2 linked regions of the Homo sapiens genome follow. The protein of the gene in region 2 interacts with the protein of the main gene of each other region in a biochemical or structural test. Each region holds a gene or a part of one and is shown on either strand. Other genes may lie near its edges.

Region 1 (3,500 bases), on a different chromosome or scaffold from region 2:
AAAAGCAATGTTATTCTTCTCAGCACATCACACCAGGAAGTGCATGATGTCAGTTTCTTCCATCCTCAGTGCCGTCTTCTGCCTTTCAATTCACTGTCCTCACTCTGACTTCTCTTGTTTGTTCTAGAACTTTGCTCCCCAGCTGTCTTATGGCTATGATGAGAAATCAACCGGAGGAATTTCCGTGCCTGGCCCCATGGTGAGCCAGCAGGGGGAGCATGGATGACAGAAGAGAGAATGGGTATCCAGAGGAGGTGGGCATAGGCGGCTGGTATAGACAGCTTGGGAGGTCCAGATCACCTTTGGGACCTCAGAGTCCAGAAAGGATGCAGGACGACTGGGTGGTCCCAACAGGCATGAATGACTACATCCACATGCTTTCCTACAGAGGGATCACCATGACCCCCCTTTCTTCTCCCTCTATAGGGTCCCTCTGGTCCTCGTGGTCTCCCTGGCCCCCCTGGTGCACCTGTGAGTATCCAGGACGTCTTCATATGCCTCCTTGGGCTTTGGTCTTTTGGAGGGAAGACTGGGATGAGGGCAGGAGAGATGCTCAGAGATCTCTTGGTAAGATTGGAGAAGGTTGACAGGGACTTGTCTTCTAACCCATCTTTTTCCTTCTTCTCAAGGGTCCCCAAGGCTTCCAAGGTCCCCCTGGTGAGCCTGGCGAGCCTGGAGCTTCAGTAAGCACTCTCTATACAGATTCATACTCCTTCTACAAACACACAGACTCTCCTATAGAAGAACTCCCAGGCCTGGGGTCTTCCTTACCTCTTCCCTTCAATCCCAGCCTTCCCCTTCTTTTTTTCTTATCCATATTCTAACCACCTCTTCTATCTTTTCTAGGGTCCCATGGGTCCCCGAGGTCCCCCAGGTCCCCCTGGAAAGAATGGAGATGATGTAAGTATCCCCAGCAAGAAGATACCATCTGACCCCATGGCCTCCATGGGTTGGGTCCTGCAATTTCCACTCCACCACATTTGGGAACGATACTCAGAGGAAGGAGGGCAAGTCCTCTCTGATGCACGGACTGCCCTGGAACAATGATCTTTTCGCTTAGTGAGATGATTCCATGTCCCCAACAAAGTGACTGTTCTCCTCACCCCAGCCACCTTAGAGCAATCCCCAACCCCATCCCTTTGGGGAAATTGGTGCGCAGATGGTGAAATTAAAATGCTGGTGACAGAAGTAGACAGAAATTCCTTTAGAGGCACTCAGATTTCACCAAACGAAGGTTTCACTGTAGATTTAAACTGAGCTCTAGATTCAAAGATAAGATTCTGGGCCCCCAAACCTGACCTGCAACAATCCAAAGAAGACTGAGACCTTCTCCACTTTTCCAGCCCCTAGGCGGTGGTGGGGAGGCAGAGGCATGATGGTCTTTTCTCTCCCTCTCAGGGGGAAGCTGGAAAACCTGGTCGTCCTGGTGAGCGTGGGCCTCCTGGGCCTCAGGTGAGCAGGGGGCTGTGGCTGAACCTGGGCTTCACTGCACTTGGGCTTCATTTAGGAGCTGGGTCCACAGTGATGTGTTCTAATGGCCCTTCCTTGTCTTCTTCATCTCTCTCCAGGGTGCTCGAGGATTGCCCGGAACAGCTGGCCTCCCTGGAATGAAGGGACACAGAGTGAGTCACCTTTGAGTCATTTAAGCTCCCCAAGTCCCTAGCATACCCCCATCCAGTCCCAACCTCTTCCCCAAAAGATACTGAGTTGCATCATGGTGGGTGGCAGCTACAGAAGTCCCAAGGGACAGAGAGTGGACATCCAAAAGCACCTCCCTCCATGGGAAAGCAGTCCCGATTAAACGATTGGGTGAGATCTAGAGCCAGTTGGGGTTTAGTCTAGCTCAGAAACAAAGGGATGGCGGTGATGACCTCCCAAGGCTCTTTCTCAGATCTAGGTGGATGTCAAGGCTGTTCCACCCCCTCCACAGGTTCTTACCTTCTACCTCTTTCCTGCTTTAGGGTTTCAGTGGTTTGGATGGTGCCAAGGGAGATGCTGGTCCTGCTGGTCCTAAGGTAAGAGGCTGTCTGAACATCATGGTCCTCCACATCCCCAGAGTCCCACCATGAATGAATTTCTCACTCATTATTCTCTGATCTACAGGGTGAGCCTGGCAGCCCTGGTGAAAATGGAGCTCCTGGTCAGATGGTGAGTGTGCCCAGTTCCAGAGGGCAGGGATGGGGCAGGAGGCAGGGGCAAGATGGAGGCCTGGGGGAACAAGGCTGTCTCCCATCTCATCTGACTTCTCTTGGTTTGGTTGTCAGGGCCCCCGTGGCCTGCCTGGTGAGAGAGGTCGCCCTGGAGCCCCTGGCCCTGCTGTAAGTACTCCTGGCCCCTTGGGGGATCCCTGAGCTCTGGAAGGGGCTCCCCAGGAACTCTAGGGACTGGCCAGTGCTCAGTGGACTTAACGGGGCTTCCCCTCTCTCCTGCAGGGTGCTCGTGGAAATGATGGTGCTACTGGTGCTGCCGGGCCCCCTGTGAGTGTGGCCTGTAGGCCTCAGGGCCTGGGAGTGGGGAGGGGTCTCAGTATCTGCTCTTGGGGCTGACAATGGGAGCAGGTTATGTTGGTCTGAACCCCAGGACTTCCTCTGTCCCAGGGTGTGACTTGCAGCTGCCATCTCTTCCTTCTCGCTGACATCTCCATTTCATTCACAGGGTCCCACCGGCCCCGCTGGTCCTCCTGGCTTCCCTGGTGCTGTTGGTGCTAAGGTGAGACCCCCCACTCTCCTCTAAGCATGACCCTCATGGGCCAAGGGGTTCATGTCTCCCTGTTCCCCAAACCAAAGGGACCCAGAGTGGCAAGAGAGCAGCCCGTTCACTAACACCTTTGTCCTGGGTTCTCCGTCTCTGATCTTAGAGTCCTGATCATTGCTCTCCTGTCCCTGTCTCCCCTTCCTCCTGCCATCCCGAGAGGCAAGGTTGGGTTTCCCAGGGTGGCTTCTGATATGTCCTTTCTTCTGATTCAGGGTGAAGCTGGTCCCCAAGGGCCCCGAGGCTCTGAAGGTCCCCAGGGTGTGCGTGGTGAGCCTGGCCCCCCTGGCCCTGCTGGTGCTGCTGGCCCTGCTGTAAGTGTCCCCGACTCAGTGTCCCCTTTGCCACTTTCTAACCTCAGAGTCCTTGCCTGTTGCTGACACTCCTTTCTCTGTGCCACAGGGAAACCCTGGTGCTGATGGACAGCCTGGTGCTAAAGGTGCCAATGTAAGTATCCTGCCAGGCTTCAGTCCCACTCCTGCCGCCTGCAGCCTGCCTGCCCCTTTCCCTCTGCTCCTAGGCTCACGCCCTGGCTGTCTGCCTCCCACAGGGTGCTCCTGGTATTGCTGGTGCTCCTGGCTTCCCTGGTGCCCGAGGCCCCTCTGGACCCCAGGGCCCCGGCGGCCCTCCTGGTCCCAAGGGTAACAGCGTGAGTACCAAACTCTCCCTTCTGCCCACCCCATGCACTGGCTCCAGTGCGGCTCTCATCTGGGGAGCAGGAAGACGCAGGCCAACTGAGCGCCCCCGAC
Region 2 (4,016 bases):
TGGTGGCCCCCACATCCACCCCAGCCTCCCCATTAGGGCTTGAAGAACTCAGACTCTTGTCATAGCGGGGCGCCTCCATCCATGCCGGTCCCTCACCCTGAAATTTCTACATTCTACATTCATCGAAATTGCATTCAGTCCTCAAGCCTCAGCTCACATGTCACTCATGCTGTAAAATATTCTCTCGGTTTTCTAATGAGAACTGACTGCTTCATAGACCCCTGACAATGGGTTTGTTGTCTGCTGCAGCATGCACCTTGTCACCTCTGTTTGCTTCTTGTGCTAGGTACCAAATTGTGTGAATAAATTTTTTTAAAATTATTAATTTGAACAAACATATTTATTGATCTTTCATTAATTAACAAAATATTAGTTGAAGCAAAATGGCCCTGGTTCTGCATCCAAAAAGTACCAAAGTCAAGTCCATGTCTTCCTCTACGTACTATGTTTGCCTGAATGTAGGCGACTGTAATAGGAGGATAACATCTTCCTTCTTCTTCTTTTTTTTTTGAGATGGAGTTTCGCTCTTGTTGCCCAGGCTAGAGTGTAGTGGCATGATCTCGGCTCACTGCAACCTCCACCTCCTAGATTCAAGTGACTCTCCTGCCTCAGCCTCCCAAGTAGCTGGGATTACAGGCACCCGCCACCATGCCCAGCTAATTTTTTGTATTTTTAGTAAAGATGGGGTTTCACCACGTTGGCTAGGCTGGTCTTGAACTCCTGACCTCAAGTGATTCCCCCGCCTTGCTCTCCCAAAGTTCTGGGATTATAGGCATGAGCGACCATGCCTGGACTTCTTCTTCTTTTTTTTTTTTTGAGACAGAGTCTTGCATTGCTGCCCAGGTTGGAGTTGCACAATAATGGCTCATTGTAGCCTTGACCTCCTGGGCTCAAGCAATCCTCCTGCCTCAGCCTCCCCAGTAACTGAGACTACACCAGTACCCCCACGTTTTTGTATTTTTTGTAGAGATGGGGTTTTGCCATGTTGTCCAGCTGGCCGTGAGCTCCTGGGCTCAATGATCCTCCAGCCTTGGCCTCCCAAGTGCTGGGATTACAGGTGTGAGGCACTGTGCCTGGCTCCTATTTTTCCTGATTGGAAGACCCCACATACAATTTCTTGGTCAGCTTGAATATTTTAAAGGATATAGATGAAATATCAAGTATCTACTTATAATAATGTATCAGTTAAGTCACAAATACATATTTAAAACATTTTAAGTTATAAAATAATGTGTTAATTTAGAAAAAACTGCTTTTTTCATTTTATAAATGTTCCATAACTTTTTTTTTCCATAAAACAATGTTTTCAAATGCCTTACCTGCCTCTCTAACATCGGTTTTGTTTTTTTTTGTTTTTGTTTTTGTTTTTTGGTTTAGTACTCAGCAGTCATCCCGAAATCCTGGGTGAGACTGCATGGAAATGGAAGCTATGCATGCTAAAAGCAACCAGGCACAGGGCATGGGGCCTTACCCCACATACACTTTGGACACTCACTGTCTCCAGACTTCTTGAACACAAGACAGAAATAAACTTCTTTCTTTAACCCACTGTCATTTCATTTTTTCTGTAACTTGCAGCTGAACTTAATCCTAACCAGTAGACTGTTTTTAAGTCTCTCCTAATGAATGCATTTGGCACCAGTGCTAAATACAATCTTCCCTTCCTGAATTTCTGCAGGTGGAATTGCATTTATGACAACTGAGATATGGGTAGGTAGTCACTCCCTTTCAAAATGAAGTAGGCAAGGAGCAGAAGCTCATGCCTGTAATCCCAGCACTTCGGGAGGCTGAGGTGGGAGAAGCACATGAGCCCAGGAATTTGAGACCAGTCTGGGCAATATAGTGAGACTTCATCTCTACAAAAAAAAAAAAAGTTTTTTTTTTGAGACTGAGTTTCACTCTCGTTGCTCAGGCTGGAATGCAATGGCGCGATCTCGACTCACTGCAACCTCCGCCTCCCGGGTTCAAGCAATTCTCCTGCCTCAGCCTCCAGAGTAGCTGGGATTACAGGCATGCACCACCATGCCCGGCTAATTTTGTATTTTTAGTAGAGACAGGGTTTCTCCATGTTGGTCAGGCAGGTCTCAAACTCCCAACCTCAGATGATCCGCCCGCCTCGGCCTCCCAAAGTGTTAGGATTATGGGCATAAGCCACTGTGCCTGGCCCCCCCAAAAAATTTTTTTTAAATTAGCTGAGCATGGTGGTACACACTTATAGTCCCAGCTACTCGGGAGGCTGAGGTGGGAGGATTGCTTGAGCACCAGGAGGTTGAGGCTGCAGTGAACTACGATCATGCCACTGTGCTTCAGCCTGGGTGACAGACAGAGACCTTATCTCAAAAAAAAAAAAAAAAAGAAGTGTGAATGGAAACAATCTCAACAGCCCTTAACAATAGTACAGAAAAACTGTGGTGTGGCCATATAATGGGATATTACGCAGCAATAAAAAAGAATTAATTACGGCATATTAATTACATGAGAAATTTACAAATATAACATTGAACAAAATAACATTCAAAAATGGAAAAAATGTATCCACAATCATAGGAATCAGGATTGTGGTTAGACTTGGCTTGTTAGTGCACAGAAAGAGCCTGAGCGGGGATTCTGGGTGCTGGCAATGTTCTATTTATTGATCAAAATGCTGGTTACACATGGGTTTATGTCATGAAAACTAATCCAGCTGCTTCCTTGATTAGTGTACTTTTTTGTATGTATACGTCAATAAGAAGTTTGTAGGCCAGGCGCAGTGGCTTAAGCCTGTAATGCTAGCACTTTGGGAGGCTGAGCCGAGCAGATTGCTTGAGCTCAGGAGTTCAAGACCAGCCTGGTCAATATTGTGAGACCCTGTCTCTACAAAAAATACATGAATTGTCCAGGCGCGGTGGCTCATGCTTGTAATCCCAGCACTTTGGGAGGCCAAGGCAGGCAGATCACCTGAGGTCGGGAGTTCAAGACCAGCCTGACCAACATGGAGAAATCCCAACTCAACTAAAAATACAAAATTAGCCGGGCATGGTGGTGCATGCCTGTAATCCCAGCTACTCGGGAGGCTGAGGCAGGAGAATTACTTGAACCTGGGAGGCGGAGGTTGCAGTGAGCCGAGATTGCGCCATTGCACTCCAGCCTGGGTGACAAGAGCGAAACTCTGTCTCAAAAAAAAAAAAAAAAAAAATACAATAATTAGCCAAGCGTGGTGGCACATGCCTGTAGTCTCAGCTACTCGGGAGGCTGAGGTGGGAGGTTGGCTAGAGCCAGGAAGTTGCAGTGAGCTAGGATCATGCCACTGCACTCCAGCCTGGGCGACAGTCAGACCATGTCTCAAAAGAAAAAAAGAGAAGTTTGCTTAAAAAGGAGGCAAATACTCGGCCAGGCGCAGTGGCTCACGCCTGTAATCCCAGCACTTTGGGAGGCTGAGGCGGGTGGATCATGAGGTCAGGAGATCGAGACCATCCTGGCTAACACGGTGAAACCCCATCTCTACTAAAAATACAAAAAATTATCTGGTCAGGGTGGCGGGCACCTGTAGTCCCAGCTACTCAGGAGGCTGAGGCAGGAGAATGGTGTGAACCTGGGAGGTGGAGCTTGCAGTGAGCCGAGATCGAGCCACTGCACTCCAGCCTGGGCGACAGAGTGAGACTCCACCTCAAAAAAAAAAAAAAAAAAAAAAACAGGCAAATACTCTACACAGATCCAGAGAGCAAAATAAAAATAAAAAATAAAGTAAGATAAAGCAGACAAAATTAACCTATGGTGATAGAAGGTAAAATAGTAGTTGCCTTAGGGGAAGACGATAATTTATTTGGGGTCCAAAGGGGGCTATGGGTGCAGATCTTGGGGGCAGTTACATGACAGTGGAGAGTGCTCACTTGTAAAACTCCATTGAGATTTCCCTCATGATTTGTGCACCTTTTTATATGTTCCTCTGATTTAAAAGAAAAAAATTAACTTAACAAATAAAGTGTGCAGTTCCAGGCTCTATTGCCCTCAGATCCTTCCACCAACAGAGGGACTGA

The links.
Region 1: the proteins of MATN2 (region 2) and COL1A1 form a complex in vitro, tested with the Homo sapiens proteins (one study listed by BioGRID).

Annotation. Positions count from the first base shown.
Region 1 is NC_000017.11:50,195,132-50,198,631, reverse strand, and holds part of COL1A1 (collagen alpha-1(I) chain preproprotein), read left to right. Parts: intron 1-127; coding exon 128-199; intron 200-426; coding exon 427-471; intron 472-629; coding exon 630-683; intron 684-846; coding exon 847-900; intron 901-1,398; coding exon 1,399-1,452; intron 1,453-1,568; coding exon 1,569-1,622; intron 1,623-1,961; coding exon 1,962-2,015; intron 2,016-2,103; coding exon 2,104-2,148; intron 2,149-2,264; coding exon 2,265-2,318; intron 2,319-2,432; coding exon 2,433-2,477; intron 2,478-2,655; coding exon 2,656-2,709; intron 2,710-2,966; coding exon 2,967-3,065; intron 3,066-3,153; coding exon 3,154-3,198; intron 3,199-3,301; coding exon 3,302-3,400; intron 3,401-3,500. UniProt on the Homo sapiens protein: Type I collagen is a member of group I collagen (fibrillar forming collagen).
Region 2 is NC_000008.11:97,875,346-97,879,361, reverse strand, and holds part of MATN2 (matrilin-2 isoform a precursor), read right to left. Parts: intron 1-4,016.